Regions from separate parts of the Homo sapiens genome. Here region 1 is linked to region 2. Evidence: fine-mapped expression QTL. A gene starts in region 2. The other region holds a variant in brackets. All regions are shown on one strand. Distances are from middle to middle.

Evidence for each region. PIP is the estimated chance that this variant, and not a neighbour inherited with it, causes the effect. A credible set is the group of variants that fine-mapping cannot tell apart.
Region 1: its variant is the best candidate, but not a certain one, in a credible set for the expression of ARL11 in whole blood (TOPMed, PIP 0.86).

The regions. Positions count from the first base shown.
Region 1 is chr13:49,530,343-49,538,890 of GRCh38, forward strand. It overlaps RCBTB1 (RCC1 and BTB domain containing protein 1), which reads right to left. Exons shown (of 13, transcript NM_018191.4): 13 at 1,604-3,920. The coding sequence ends at 3,780. Among named protein-coding and RNA genes, the nearest start is that of PHF11, 39 kb to the left of the region's middle. The variant A/G (reference allele first, on the strand shown) is at 4,379.
Region 2 is chr13:49,624,091-49,632,638 of GRCh38, forward strand. ARL11 (ARF like GTPase 11) reads left to right here and starts at 4,417. Exons shown (of 2, transcript NM_138450.6): 1 at 4,417-4,525; 2 at 6,340-8,548. The coding sequence starts at 6,358. The coding sequence ends at 6,948. RefSeq lists an enhancer at 4,669-4,718.

The DNA of each region.
Region 1 (8,548 bases), 94 kb before region 2:
ATGATAAGCTCTGGAAGGCTCATTAGCCCCCATCTCTTGTGCCTCTTTTTGTTTTGGAGATGAGCTAAAAGGACACTTTATATTTTCCCCTATCCAACACAAGCGTTATCTTCAGAACAACTAACTGCTTGTCATGTTAACCCTATTAACTGTATTAGTCCGTTCTCACACTGGTATGAAGAAATACCAGAGACTGGGTAATTTATAAAGGAAACAGGTTTAATGGACTCAGTTCCGCATGGCTGGGGAGGTCTCAAGAAACTTACAATTGTGGCGGAAAGGGAAGAGGCCCGTCTTACGTAGTGGCAAGTAAGTGAGAGCACGCAAAGCCCAGGGGGAACTGCCATTTATAAAACCATCAGATCTCATAAGAACTCCCTCAATAGCATGAGAACAGCATGGGGAAACCGCCCCCATAATCCAATCACCTCCCAACAGGTCTCCCTCAACAACTGAGGATTACAATTCAAGATAAGTTGGGTGGGGACACAGAGCCAAACCACATCATCCTATTTGGTTTTCTCTCACTGACTGTTATGAAAAGCTCTTTATAAGTATCTCATTGTGTTGTTAATTCCTAAACCTATCTCCCTCTCTCCTAATAATTCATATGTTCTTTGAGGATAGGGAATATGCCTTTCCCTTCAAGTACCCCCAAAGGTACAGACACATTTTTCTACTGTGCCAGTTCAACTGTACTACCCTTCAGCAGGAATAAAATCCAAAGATTTCTATGATGTTTGTTTGTGTATAGTTGAGAATCAAGCAGTTGACATGTTCATGCTGGTACCTATTTTTAGCCTGATACCCATTAAGAATCACACCACTGATTTTTTTTATTATGGTAAAATATATATATAACCTAAAATTTGCCATCCCAATCATTTTTAAATGTATGGTTCAATGGCATTAAACATTCATTTTTGTGCAACCATCACCACCATGCACCTAAAGCAGCAGTCCCCAACCTTTTTGGCACCAGGGACTGGTTTCGTGGAAGACAATTTTTCCACGGACCATGGGGATGGGGCGGTTGGTCAGGGGTGGGGAGGATGGTTTTGGGATGAAATTGGTCCACCTCAGATCACCAGTCATTAGATTCTCATATGGAGCACACAACCTAGATCCCTTGCATACTCAGTTCACTGTAGGGTTTGCACTCCTATGAGAATCTAATGTTCTAATGTTGCCACTGATCTGACAGGAGGCAGAACTCAGGCAGTAATGCTCACTCATCCGCCACTCACCTCCCGCTGTGCGACCTCTTCCTAACACGCCAGGGATGAATATGGGTCTGTGGCCCGAGGGTTGGGGACCCCTGACCTAAAGGACTCTTCATCTTGGAAAACTGAAACTCTGTATCCATTAAACAAGTTCCCCATTCTCCTCTCCCCTCAGACCCTGGCAATGACCATTCTACTATGTCTCAATGAATTTGACTAAGTATATCACACAAATGGCATCACATAGTATTTTTCTGTGAGTGGCTTATTTCACCCAGCATAATATCCTCAAGTTCACCTCTGTGCACCATGTGTCAGAATTTCTTTCCTTTTTAAGGCTGCAGACTACTGATTTTGAAGGAAAAAAACAACTCTATGTGCCTGTTTTAATGTTACTTTGTTTATTAACATGTCGTTCTAAATATTACATAAATACAGCTTACATACTAGAGTATCAAACATTGTTCCAGTAAGAAGTTCAAGAGTACATTTAGGGCTATCTTAAGAAATATGAATACTTTGGCTTCCATTATTACATTAGATGAAAAAATCAATTCAAATAAGAGTTGTCATATCCTGCTATGATTAACAAAAAAACAAGTAGAAAAATAAGAGAGTGTATTTAAAAAAAATAATCAAATGCTTTTTGAAAGACCTGTTCTCTTCACTGCCACACATATTCATACAAATGACTTAGTAATCTAATATGAGAAGTGGTCCTTCACTTATATTAGGAACTTGGTAAATATTTGTTGAATGAATGAACTATCTATGGATATGAATTTACTACTTTAATTTGTGCTTTTTTTGAAAAAAAGTTTTCAAGTAAGAGCAATAGTAAACATACTGAAGTTCACATTTTGCTCAGATCATAAGCCTATAGAACAGTGATTGTTACAAACACCACCCATCATAGCACAAATCAATGTGCATTTCTGAAGCTAGTAAGAAAAGTTCTATCATGTTGTAGAACGAATTCTAACCGACTAATTCACTGGGCTTCAATCACTTGTGATATGGTCAAGAAAAGGGGGCTGGGGCTCCTAGGCTTGTATCTATTTCAGCTATCAGTGAATTCCTATCTTTAGGGCCTCACTCCCCTTCCCACCCCAATAGACACAAATTTAAAAACATTGCTAAAAATAGTAGTTGTAGCATGTCTTCACCCACTTGTAATTTGGCTCTGAAAATGTATTCAGGCTCCAGGTTCAGAAGAGAGACTTTCCAAGCAGGAGACAAAATTCACTAAGGGAACTCACTCAAATGGAAATGAGTTCATGGACCAGAGAGCAAAGCAAAACATTGCTCTTAAAAGCAAGCTCAACGGACACACATGATGAAACTCACAGTTGAACACTCTTACATCCCAAAGTCACCTTCCATAACCAGTTCAAATAAACTACTGTCTTTTAATAGGATCTTTTCAGGAACACCATAATTTTGGTGCTTTTTCAAGGTGAAATTGTGCTGTTATACCTAAGATGTTTAAAAACAGAGGAAAACCAAAAGTGAAAGATGATAAAGTTTCACATAAGCCAATGTGTGATGGATTTGGCCTAAAGTAGATAAAGCAAATTCCACTAAGTCTTGTAAGAGGGTTGACTTGAAGAACCACTTCTTCCAGTCATATATAGTAGATATGATGATTCAGCAGTCATAATTTAGGAAGGCAAGAGTATACTATACATGTCATTATTTTCCTCTTAAGTTTGCATTTATAGAAGAAGGTGGTGGGGGACAATTTAAACTTGAGTTCTCAAGTTCTACCTTAATGAAATAAAACACCATTGGATAAGTAGTGGAGATTCTAATTTATAAAATATTCACCTTCATCAAATTTCTTTCATTATCAACTTTTCACGGATACTTCTAAATTACTATTCTTTATGCACTTAAATCTTAAGAGAAATCTTGACTAACCTAGAATATTTATCTTTACATAATTATCATTTCAACAGGTTTAATATACGTTAAACTTATTACTTTGATTTATCTTGAAGTTAAAAAAGTCATCAACGCAAGCACACAAACAAAAGTCTGAAACAATCTTAATTATTCCTTCACAGTAAGGCTACTAAACTAGCAACTAAGGCAGCACTTAACAATCCCCAGGTCAGCATCTTTAATTCACGATGGGGCCTCTCCATTCATCTCACAATTCCCCAACTATCACTGCTCCTGCTGTCAGAAGATTGTTGATACGTGGCCCAGGAGAGTTGCTGCCAACTTCCCCTTTCCAAGTTCAGAAGTTCCTCTAATCAAAAATGAAAAGAAGACCAAAAACGACTAACTTTCACCCTTTTACATGTTCCAGCCCAAATTTACGAAAGGTCACATTTAAAATACACTTATCTGGAAACAAGGGTTGTTTAAAATGGGCTCAAGAAAAGCCGTACACCCTTGTTATGTTCCTACACAAACAACTGTGTCCCAGATGTGGAAAAAAACAACCTGATGGTCTTTTACCTGCAGAATCACATCACCCGTAGAGCACAAACTGGACACATCCTCAACAGTGCCCCAGAGCACTCACACAGAACCCAGCAGCCTTGCGCTTCAGTTCTTAAAGGCTCCACATTTACTGGCTTTAGCAATGAATTCCTTTAGCAGAGGGCCATCCATTTGCCAAAATGCTGCAGTCTGTGTAACTTCTGTCAAATGATTGATGCAAAACTTAAAGCAGAATTCTTCTAAATCCTGGACACACAACAAAAATAAAAACAAAAATGGCTTTTTTAGGCAACTTTGATTGAATTACTTCTCTCTGAGCCCTTTACCCCAAATCTCTCACCCTCCCCCAGAAAAGATATTTGAGAGGCCAGATACCTAAAACTAGGCAAAAAGGTGACCACAGGTAGGTGTGAGAAAAACACATACTATTTATTCAACGCAGTAAAAGCAATGGTCCTCTAACTCAAAGTACGACTCTTCAAAACACACACGCGCGCGCACACACACACACACGCAAGATCTACAAGGGAAAGAATTTCCTGCACGATTATCACATAATCTAGTTATGCTCAAAGACATTGTTGTAAAAGGCAGAATGCCACTTTAGTCTGCAGAATGTGTTTTGTCACGTTCAAGACATCAGAGAAAAGAATTAAGATGTGGGTTAGTTTAAGAAACAGAAAGGTAATGAAGAGATATGGTCA[A/G]CCTAAAGTGGCACATTAAAAAGAAAATCCCAGCCGGGCACGGTGGCTCACGCCTGTAATCCCAGCACTTTGGGAGGCCGAGGCGGGCGGATCACTTGAGGTCAGGAGTTCGAGACCAGCCTGGCCAACATAGGGAAACCCCGTCTCTAGTAAAACTACAAAAATTAGCCGGGCGTGGTGGTGGATGCCTGTAATCCCAGCTACTCAGGAGACTGAGACAGGAGAATCGTTTGAGCCTGGGAGGCAGAGGTTGCGGTGAGCCGAGATCGCACCACTGCACTCTAGCCTGGGTGACAGAGCAGAGGCTCTGAAAGAAAATCCCAAAAAATTCACCTTAAATTCACTTTTATGCTCTCCTAATAATGACTTTATTTTTAAAGCCATAAAGAATAATAACACTACAACTTCCACCACACTAATATCTCAGAACATCACCCCCACAGAAGTATATTTACACAGGTTAGTTTTCAGTCAAACAGAAGTCACCAACTACCAACATTCAGGGGAGTAACATCCACAAGGGGTAAACCAGAACCATTTCAAAATCAATCCCTGCCTATGCTAATCCACCCTTTCATCCCCTGCCAAACTTTAATATAGTCTGTCCCTTAGGATGTTGGAATATATATTTATTAAATCGATTAGGCACCTGGAATGCATACAAAGACTCAATATATAAAAGGAAATCACACTAAAAGCTCTTATCACAAATAGCTTGACTTTATTACAACTTGGTTAGCTGGTACATTGAAGGTCAGCACTCCGGGTTCTATCGAACCAGAAGCTCAACATTTCAACTGCAGGTTTTGACCGCACATTTCCAGCTACCACGAGGTGGGAATGTTAGACAGAGTGGAAGGGGCCCACACAAACATGGAGAGACCCCTTTTCTGCTCTCAGCACAGACCTCTGCAAACAATGATTTCCTTGTTCTAAGGGTCCTCCTGTCCCTGGCTAAAAGATGCCCTAGAGTAAACTCCAGAAACCCATCCAGTCACATAACCATTAAGAGATAAACCACAGGCCAGGCGTGGTGGCTCACGCCTGTAATCTCAGCACTTTGGGAGGCTGATGCGGGCAGATCACGAGGTCAGGAGTTTGAGACCAGCTTGACCAACATGGTGAAACCCCGTCTCTACTAAAAATACAAAAATTAGCCAGGTGTGGTGGCAAGCACCTGTAATCCCAGCTACTCAGGAAGCTGAGGCAGGAGAATCGCTTGAACCCAGGAGGCGGAGGTTGCAGTGAGCCGAGATCATGCCACTGCACTCCAGCCTGGGAGACAGGAGTGAAACTCCATCTCAAAAAAAAAAAAAAAGAACTTTTATACACAATATAGGTATAAAAATGGTGCCACTAATCACAATTCACTTTATACACTCATGAAAATGGTTCTATCAAACTGCCTTCCCTTCCCCTCCAATTAGTTTGAACTACTGAGGTATCTGGGTATGCAATAAATATTCAAAAGTTCCAAACATTAAAAGCCAAACTAGAGAATTCTGAAAACAATCTAAATCTGGGTTGTGTAAGTAACTAATTAAACCTTGGTTGAGGCAGATCTATGTAAAAGGAAGCCCTGAACGCATGTGGTGAGGGACGTTTGAATTTGCAAGTTCACCAGAGAGTCGCACAGTCAAGCTGAACCACTTAGCAACCAGTGCCCAGGGTTGGTTTGCCTTTGATGAGCAAGTTAGACAAACGCCCTTCCGACTTGACCTCTCTTTAGTATTATAAGAATCTACATAATCTGTTCCTTTCATTCTGCAAAGGATCAAATCTTCAATAACAGGCAAGAAAATGCAACTCCTGTCCAAGTGAGAAGTCAACTATAACAGGGCTGGTTATAGTTGACTTCTTACTTCTAACTGGGCTTTAAATAAAACAGTTCCAAGGAGGACCAGAAGGATCATGTGACCAGGAGATGAACAAAGTTCCCGACAGAATGAAAGTCCTCTTATAGCCCATGGAATAGGGAAGTGGAGAGTATAAAAACAGAAGGGTCTAATACAGTCTTCTTGGTATTAGAAACTAAACTCTGTTTATGACGTTATGTGGCAGAACAATTATAAAGTGTTCTAAGGCAAATGAGATAAAATACCAGATTTATTGTCATTAGCAAAGAAGACAAAAATAAAAACTGCTCTTCTGAAGTAATTTATAAATCATTCCAAATCTTTCAACATTGAAACTATTCCAATTCAATATATATACTCTGAAAATAAGCTGTTTTTCCTTTCCACAAATTTTCTTTAGTAACAAAACAAAACACAGAGCATTGATGGTCTTAATATCCTCATTTTAAAAAATGCTAATGCCGCCTCTAAGGGAGTTCTTACCCTGTCCTAAAACTCCAAAGCTAAACTAGTTGAATGTTAATAATTTGAAGACCACCTAACCAGGGTGAGCAGGTGCCTCGGCATCACAGCTCCCCACAAGACACATTCCAGATGACACAAGATCACGAACCACACCTAACTCTGTCCAACCTGTTGTTAAAGTAACTGCAAGACAAAACCCCAAAACTGTCAGTCTATAATTCATGTTATAGCACATCAAGTACAAAATATTCCAAATCAAAGAAGTTTTGTTTTGTTCTCAAAATGTACTTAAACATTCTACCATATGGAGAAAACATAATTTATCCCATTACGCAAAAAACATTTGTCAGCCTACTGCTGATCAAAGACTTTTCATTTGGCCCACCAAAAGAAGAAAAAAACGCTGGCCACCAAGCCTTAACACCAAGCTGTCCAATACTCATACCCCAGACCAACTTCAGAATTAGATTCCTGGGCTCACGTTTATCGCTTCCCTCCAAAAGCAAGATCGTAAGATATAAGTTGCTTAGCACACAGGATTTCTGGAAAGTTCTCTACTCTGGTTAAACAAATAATACTTCCCAGCTGTTTCTCTTAACGTTCAAATACACATAAAAATAAAAAATTTCCTGAAAAGAATCAGTTTGCATTGTGCAACTGATCTATCTTGAAACAATGTTTTATCCACATTTTCTCCCTGATGTCAATATTTATTCAGGTCTGTACCAAAGGAGTATCTGGGTGCTCCTTTGTGAAGTCCTTCTTAATAAAACTTGTGGACAGTTTCATAACACGTTCATAGCAAGGGATCCACAATCATCAACTTACTTTTGAAACTCCCTGTAACTACTGAGTCCATACATTTTTGTTGCTTTAATGTGTGTACATTTGCTTCAAAGCTATCTTGTCAAAACGGGGCATGGAGGAACCTCAGGTACTTTCGTAGAAAGACAAGAAACATTGGAAGCAGGTAGTCTCCATCTTCCTAGCATTTTGGCCCACAGCACGAAGGCAAAGTCATCTAGCATCCCCAAGTTGAGCTCTAAAAATAATAGTTTTTGCAGTCAATTTCTAACCTGACTCATCAGTAGCCTCCAATCAACTAATAAACACAGTAAGAGGGCTTTCTTTTTAAGAGATGGCAGTCTCACTATGTTGTCCAGGCTGGTCTCAAACTCCTAGCCTCAAGCAATCCTCCCACTTCAGCATCCTGAGTAGCTAGAATACAGGCATGAGCCACTGTGCCCAGCTATGGATTTTAATTTTGTACTCCAGAACTTCATTCATGTACTCACTGTATCTTGTAGCATTCAGGAAATAAAATGTAAAAGCACATTAGTCAATTACGTAACTTGTATTGTAACCTAAGAAATACACCCTAGAAAGAGGCCTGGCGCAGTGGCTCATGCCTATAATCCCAGCACTTTGGAAGGCTGAGGTGGGAGGGACACTTGAGCCCAGAAGTTCAAGACCAGCCTGGGCAACATAATGAAACCCTGTCTCTACAACAAATAAAAAATAAGAAATTAGCTGGGTGTGGTGGCACACATCCGTAGTCCCAGTTCCTGGACTGGGAAGGAAGGAGGACTACTTGAGCCCAGGAAGTTGAGGCTACAGTGAGCTGTGATCACACCACTGTGCTTCAGCCTGGGCAACAGAACAAGACCCTGTATCACCAGGAAAAAAAAATACATACAAATTATGAATATATATATATACACACACACACACATATATATATATGCCCTAGAAATAAAGAGGTGAGTCTTTCTTTTTGTCTTCTTTCTATTCTCTAATTTTTCTACGTTGAATCTGTAATATTTGTAGGATTTTAAGTTTTTTTTAACTT
Region 2 (8,548 bases):
GGCTGGAGCACTGCGGTGAAAGGAGAACGTCCTTGATGCTCTACTCTTTTGTACCTTCAGAATTTTGTATGGATGGCTTGAAAATAGAAAGAAATAGAATTTGATTTTTAAAAGAGGCAGTCCCTGGAAAAAAGTTATTAATTTGCATATTGCAAGTTGAGAAAGTGAGAGACCAGAGCAAGAGGAGGTCACAACAAGATAAAAAGGTGGGGGCCGTTATGGAGCCCAGGGAAAGGAGGGCTGGACAAGAGACTCCGTCCATGTTTCTCTAGCACTTTCCAGGAGAATAAAGCTCTTGTTCTAGCACTCTCCTCCTTTGGACCTATCTGTAGAGAGCAGAAAAGTGACCACGAGGCTCTGTTGCATGATAAACAACCCCTTAAAAACCACCAACTTTCCATGGTCTTCCAGCAACCCATTTGGATGTCGTCCCTACAGTTGACTCCTTCAGTCCCTGTGTGTGTCCTCTGCGTGCCCCTGGCCCCCTGCCTTCCCTTAGCTGTGCTGCACAGAAAACCGCCCCAGCTCTTGGGTCAAACAGATCCCATAAGAAACATCAGAAGAAGCATCCTGGCTTACAAGTTATTTTTTGGTGAGTGCAATGGGCGTGCCGTGCTCCTCCAGGCCTGACCACCTGTATGAGAGTTGGCAGGAGGACATTTCTAAACTCACACTCTTAGGGCAGTAGAGATGGGGCCTAAGACCTTTGTCTCTCCTGGTATCAGTGAGCCCCGTGTAGCCCCTTTTCCTTATTCCAGGTCTGGAAGCTGCAGTCACAGACACACAAAGGTGCTGGGGCTTGCACATTCACCAGCGTCACTTTCTCCAGCCACACCACTACGTTTGAGGGCTCTCCTGTCCTTCTCTAACAGAACTAGTCTGGGACTAGACGCCAGGCTTTGGGCTAAGTACTTGATGTGTCTTCACTTATTAAATCCTTCCAATAACCCTTCAAGTTAGGTACCATTATTATCGTCATCAACCTCATTTTATAGAGAAGGAAACTGAGGTGCAGAGAAATTCAGGTTGAGGTTCACAGCAAATAAGCAGTGGAGGCCAAGTGTGCCCCCAGGTGGACCCAAATCAAAGCCACACTGTTACCTTCTGCTCTGCGCTGCCTCCCGGGGCAGTAGCCCTCGTGAGCCTCCCCACGTTGGGGTGTCTAATGAAAAGCTTCCCTGCTGGTTGAGCTGAAGGGGTCAGGGTCGGGGCTGTACAGAGAAACTCAGGCCACAAGGGCCTTTGGGCAGAACTGGGGTCACAAAGTAATCATGGTTTCCCAGCGAACACAAGACTTTGGCCCTCAGGCAAGGCTCCTTGATGTCTGGGGGAGCCTGTGCCCCCCAGCAGTGCTCACAGATCCACCCCTGACTGCCAGCCGGCCCCTTGATGGCGGTGCCTGTCTCAGATTCTGTGGTCAGTGCCACGCAGCTACCTCCAGAGGCAGCCTGCAGCCTGGCCATGTGGCCCCAAGCTCCAGGCTAGAGGCCAAGGGGAGTGTCCCTTCTCTCTCTGTGTCACCCAGGGCATAGGTCACCCAGGCAGCCTGGCATGGTGCCTCCAAGCCACTGTGCTAATGCTTCTACAGCTTCTGCTCCCTCCCTGCCTCCATGGGGCCCAAACCTAGCCCTGGTGCTGCTCTGGGAACTGGGTCAGAGCAGCACCCCAGCTCCCCCACCCCCAGGAGCCCCTCAACCTTGGCCTGCTGTCATCCTCGTCCGGCCCCAATCTTCCTGCAAATCGGGCCCTTGCAGGATTCCTGCTGACTCAGCAGCTGGGCCCGGACAGGACTTAGTCCCAGCGTGAGCCGATCCCGCTGCAGTTTGGGCGAGAATGACAAGCCCTCCACCAGACGATTCTTTATTGCTCTGAGACTTCCCTGGGATAATTCCACCCCCAGGAGCACTCTATCTGTTTCTGTCTCCTCCCCACACACCCCCTGGCCTTGAAAAAGGATGATCACTGACCACAGGCACTGAAAAGAGCAAACCAAGAGCAGCATCAATACCCTCACACAGTGGTGCACATAACACACTTTGAGTTTCTGACTTTTCCTAATCAGTTCTTCCTGCTAAAATACAGTAGCTTAACAAAAACAATGACAACAACAATCTGGTGTTTGCCATTTACAAGGCACTTTCTGTGTGAGTAGCATGACATGGTAAAAGAGAAAGAGATGAATTATAAAACGCAGCAAGATCATGAGTCAATGATTCACCCTGTCCCAGCCTGCTTCTTTTTTTTTTTTTTTGAGACAGAGTCTTGCTCTGTCACCAGGCTGGAGTGCAGTGGCGCGATCTCAGCTCACTGCAACCTCCGCCTTCCGGGTTCAAGCGATTCTCCTGCCTCAGCCACCCGAGTAGCTGGGACTACAAGTGTGCGCCACCATGCCCAGCTAATTTTTGTATTTTTAGTAGAGATGGGGTTTCACCATGTTGGCCAGGATGGTCTCGATTTCTTGACCTTGTGATCTGCCCGCCTCGGCCTTCCAACCGAGCCTGCTTCTTTTCTTGTAAAATGGAAGAGTCATAACATCCAACTTGAGTCTTGATATTTTAATGAAATAATGCATGGGAAAGCAGAAAACAGCACAAAGATTACTGGTTATAAGAGCTAAATCACTGTGACTCCATATCCAAATTCAATACCTACTGAATCAGTGGTTTCTGACTAGTCAATTTTTTTTCTTTTTTTCTTTTTTTTTTTGAGACAGAGTCTCGGCTGGGTGCAGTGGCTCACACCTGTAATCCCAGCTCTTTGGGAGGCCGAGGCGGGCAGATCACTCGAGATTAGAAGCTGGAGACCAGCCTGGCCAACATGGCAAAACCCTGTCTCTACTGAAAATAAAAAAATTATCCAGGCATGGTAGCACGTGCCTGTAATCCCAGGTACTCGGGAGGCTGAGGTGGGAGAATTGCTTGAACCTAGGAGGCGGAGGTTGCAGTGAGCCGAGATTGTGCCATTGCACTCCAGCCTGGGCGCCAGAGCGAGACTCCATCTCAATTAAAAAAAAAAAATAGGAGAGAGACAGAGTCTCACTCTGTCTTCTAGGCTGGAGTGCAGTGCTGTGATCTCAGCTCACTGCAGCCTCCACCTCCTGGGCTCATGCAGTTCTTGGGCCTCAATCTCCCAAGTACCTGGAACTACAGGCACACATCACCATGCCTGGTTAATTTATTATTTTTTGTAGAGACGTGGTTTCACCATATTGGCCAGGCTGGTCTTGAACTCCTGAGCTTGAGCGATCCTCCTGCCTTGGCCTCCCAAAGTGCTGGGATTACAGGCATGAGCCCCCATGCCCGGCGACTAGCCAATTTTTTAAAAATTACATTTTCTAGAGGTGTCATTTTTACTGGGAAAAACACAGTGACACCATTCAAGAAAAAATTGAACGGTAACTTTAATCACTACATTAACACAATTTTAAAGGTTGATCTGCATCATACATACCTTTTAAAGAATGTTTTCATCATATGTAGACAGCTTTTTTTGTTTTTTGTTTTTGTTTTTGTTTTGAGGCAGAGTCTCGCTCTGTCACCAAGGCTGGAGTGCAGTGGTGTGATCTGGGCTCACTGCAACCTCCGCCTCCCGGGTTCATGCCATTCTCCTGCCTCAGCCTCCCAAATAGCTGGGCCTACAGGTAGGTGCCACCACGCCCAGCTAATTTTTGTATTTTTAGTAGAGACGGGGTTTCACCATGTTAGCCAGGCTGGTCTCGAACTCCTGACCTCGTGATCCACCCACCTCAGCCCCCCAAAATGTTGGGATTACAGGCCTGAGCCACCACGCCTGGCCATAGGCAGCTTTTAAAAGAACACATGTGCAGCCTGGCCATCATGGTGAAACCTGTCTTTATGAAAAATACAAAAATCAGCTGGGCATGGTGGCACCTGCCTATAATCCCACTTGCTTAGGAGGTTGAGGAGGGAGGATCGCTTGAGCCCTGGAGGCGGAGGCTGCTGTCCAGCCTGGGCGACAGAGCAAGACTCGGTCTCAAATAGAAAACAAAACAAAACAACAACAACAACAACAACAAACCATGTGTGATTCCAAGCAAATCAGAGAATCTCTAGCCACCAGAAAAACCTTGAGGCATGTACTGAAAGGAAGAGGTCAGAATTCTCTGCGAGGAGCTCAGAGGATCCTGAGGGAAGAGAGAAGGCGGCTGCGCTTGGACACAGCTCCGAGCTCGTGCTCCCTCCTTCAGGCACCCAAGTCTGAGTTGCTAAAAAATGGAGCTGTCACTGGGCCTTGCTCTGCCAGGACCTGCAGAGCCGGGGACCTCTCTGTGGCAAGCCCAGCAAGATGACTGCTCTGAGGCGCCCTAGGGCTGAGGGAGGGGCCGTGACACCAGCCCCGCCCCCCAGCCACCTGGGAAAAGGAAGCACAAAAAGGAGAAGCAGCAACGGCTGCTCTGCTTCCTTCCCATCTCGCTCTTGGGTCATGCCTGGCCAGCAGAAAGCAGCTCCATAGGGGAGGAGAGCCACGCAGGATCTCACAGCTGCAGTCTAATAGTAACACAGAGGTAATTTTAACTTTTTACTTTTCTACCCTTGGGAGTAGGGATGAGTAGAGGCTTACCTCCTTCCAGAGGCAGCTCATATCCCCCCACCCCCATTCCCGGAAGTTGAGATGTCTCTTCTCTGTTCCACGCAGGCATCGTCTAAGTTGGGAACAGGTCTTATGTCTTAAAATTTGGGATTCTTTAAAAACATATGTGGCTGGGCACAGTGGCTCACGCCTGTAATCCCAGCACTTTGGGAGGCCGGGCAGGTGGATAATTTGAGGTCAGGAGTTCAATACCAGCCAGGCCAACATGGTGAAACCTCGTCTCTAATATAAATACAAAAAGTAGCTGGGTGGTAGTAGTAGCTGTAATCCCAGGTACTCGGGAGGCTGAGGCAGGAGAATCCCTTGAACCTAGGAGGCGGAGGTTGCAGGGAGGCAGAGGTTGTGATGAGCCAAGATTGCACCACTGCACTCCAGTCTGGGTGACACAGTGAGACCCTGTCTCAAAACAACAACAAAAATGTGTGATGGCACATGCCCATAGTCCCAGCTACTGGGGAGGCTGAGGTGGGAGGATGGCTTGAGCCTGGGAAGTCGAGGCTGCAGTGAGCTGTGATCATGCCACTGCAGTCCAGCCTGGGCGACAGAGTGAGACCCTGTCTCAAAACAAAACAAAACAAAACAAAACAAAAAAACCCAAAAACAAACAAAAAAGCACATGTGGAGTGTTGTAGAAGTCATTGACCTTGGTAAGACAGTGGAGGAAACTGCTTTGCTCTGACTCATAAATTTGCCCCCAGTAAACAGTATTTATAAATAGCCCCAGTCAGGCACTGCATGAAGACATTTCAGTCAACGACAGACCACATATACAACGGTGGTCCCATAAGATTATAACAGAGCTGAAAAATTCCTATTTTTCAGCTTAGTGTTGTGGTGCAACCACTACCTTTTCTATGTTTAGATACACGAATACTTAGCACTGTGTTACAATAGCCTACAGTACCCATTACAGGAATGCTGTACCGGTGTGTAGCCCAGGAGCAATGGGCCATACCATATAGCCTAGGTGTGGAGTAGACTAGACCATCCACGTTTGTGTAATTACAATCTATGATTTTGTAAAATGATGAAATTGCCTAATGAAGCATTTCTCAGAATGTGTCCCCGTCATTAAGTGACACCTCACTGTGTTTCCAAGACATAGTACTGGTCCTTGGGAAGCTCTAAAGAGAGGTCACCGTGAGCTGAACCATCCTTCTCACTCTGTGCATGGAACCCAGCTTAGCTTCCATTTCAGCATTTAGGCTTATAGGAGGAGAAGAGGTTAGAAGCCACAGACCAGCAAGAATTGAAGACATCGTTCTGTAATTTCTACTGAACCAGCTCTGTCTGACTGGAACTTCATTTTGCCTCTTTGCTTTAACTCCTCAGGAATGTCTTCCAGGAGGCCCCTGATCTTCTCTGCTCAGGGACCACTCTTATCTGACCCAGAGACAGGTTAGCTGATGGTGACTCACACATCCTCACTTCCTTCAAAGCCCAGGCATCTGTTTAAAATCTGACCCTGTGAAGACTTTTCCTGTTTTGGAAAAACTCTTCCGTTGTTTGCCTGCACAGATTTGTGCTCCATTTTTAATTTCAATTTTTGTAGAGAAGGCGGGTCCTTGCTTTGTTGCCTCGGCTTGTTTGAAACTCCTGGGCTCAAGTGATCCTCCTGCCTTGGCCTCCCACAGTGCTGGGATTACAGGTGTGAGCCACTGCACCAGGATGGATTTGTCTTCCTTCAGAAGACAGTAGCTGATGTGTGCCCTGGCCTTTCTCCCCTAGGATTCAGCAGTGGCCACCATGGGTTCTGTGAATTCCAGAGGTCACAAGGCGGAAGCCCAGGTGGTGATGATGGGCCTGGACTCGGCGGGCAAGACCACGCTCCTTTACAAGCTGAAGGGCCACCAGCTGGTGGAGACCCTGCCCACTGTTGGTTTCAACGTGGAGCCTCTGAAAGCTCCTGGGCACGTGTCACTGACTCTCTGGGACGTTGGGGGGCAGGCCCCGCTCAGAGCCAGCTGGAAGGACTATCTGGAAGGCACAGATATCCTCGTGTACGTGCTGGACAGCACAGATGAAGCCCGCTTACCCGAGTCGGCGGCTGAGCTCACAGAAGTCCTGAACGACCCCAACATGGCTGGCGTCCCCTTCTTGGTGCTGGCCAACAAGCAGGAGGCACCTGATGCACTTCCGCTGCTTAAGATCAGAAACAGGCTGAGTCTAGAGAGATTCCAGGACCACTGCTGGGAGCTCCGGGGCTGCAGTGCCCTCACTGGGGAGGGGCTGCCCGAGGCCCTGCAGAGCCTGTGGAGCCTCCTGAAATCTCGCAGCTGCATGTGTCTGCAGGCGAGAGCCCATGGGGCTGAGCGCGGAGACAGCAAGAGATCTTGATCCAGACAGAGCAGCATATCTTTGCTCATACAAACTAGAAGAACCAGCTGATCCTTGAGAAATTTACGCTTAGTCTATCAAACAAGAAATGCTGGCTTGGCCCGGTGGCTCATGCCTGTAATCCCAGCACTGTGGGAGACCACGGTGGGGGAATCCCTTGAGCCCAGGAGTTGGAGAGCAACATCACAACACCCCATTTCTACTAATAATCAAAAAATTGGCCGGGCATGGTGGCATGTGCCTGTAGTCCCAGCTACTTGGGAGGCTGAGGCAGGAGAATCGCTTGAGCCCAAGAGGTAGAGGTTGCAGTGAGCCAAGATCGCGCCACTGCACTCCAGTCTGGGCAACAGAGTGAGACCCTGTCTCAATAATAATAATAATAATAATGATGATACTCTAAGAAAAAAATCTCAACATACTTCATTTAATAGCTCGTTACCAAGTGTGAATGAAGCAATATGTCATAATAGAGTAGCCACTGGTTGCATAATAATAGAGACCTAAATTCTCAAATAGGGAAAGAGGTTTTAAAATCAAATTTGAGGCCAGGTGCAGTGGCTCATGGGCGGAGGAGGGCAGATTACTTGAGGCTAGGAGTTCAAGACCAGCCTGGCCAACATGGTGAAACCCCATCTCTACTGAAAATACAAAAATTAGGCATAGTGGTGCACGCCTGCAGTCCCAGCTACTCAGGAGGTTGAGGCAGAAGAATCGCTTGAACCCAGGAAGTGGAGGTTGCAGTGAGCCGAGATTGTGCTGCTGCACTCCAGCCTGGGTGAAAAAGACAGGCTGTGTCTCCAAAAAGAAAAAAAAAAGTCAAATTCAAATATCATCTGGACATGTCACAATGGATCGCGGATCCTTATGAGTGATTTTCCCCAGTGGCCCCTGGGGATGTGCCACTGTCACTCAGAAGGGCAAGCTAGGCAGGGCCCATACAACAGCAGGGGTCTGCAGGTTAGACGTTCCCTGCCCTGGGACGCTCACCCCTGGGCAAGAGGCTGGAAGTTCACACCATCCAAAATTTATCCTTGTTTTTTTTCTGATGCTAATTAGCCTCTCCCGATTTTATGACATCTTGTGTTGATCTTTTTCAAAAACTCATTTTCTTTTTTTTCCTTCTCTTTTCTCCTTCTTGTAGCACATATCTTTCGTTAAAGATCAGATCAATAAAATATTTTATTTATTCATTAATTTAACAAAAAAAACAGAGCATTTAGTTTGTGGCAAAAACACTGAGCTTTCGAATATGAATCATGTGCTTTAGGTGGGAATTGTGAATTCTGAAGATACAGATGACAGTGACGAATGCCTTCTGTCTCATGATTGACAGGGAAAAGGAAGGTTGACCATAGCATCCTAGAAGGCTCATCAGGTGATCATTACCTAGCATCCATGAAGCACCTGAAATTATTTGCAAAATGTTACGCTTTGGACCATTTTTCCGGGGAAGGAGATCCAGAACTTTTTACCAGATTTTCAAAGACATCTGTGACTCCCAAAAGTTAACAATCACTGATGTGGTTGTTGTATCCCTCATCCAACCCCAGAACACTTTCTGTAATCTGAGTTTTTTAATGGCAAGTGGCCTATATTTAGC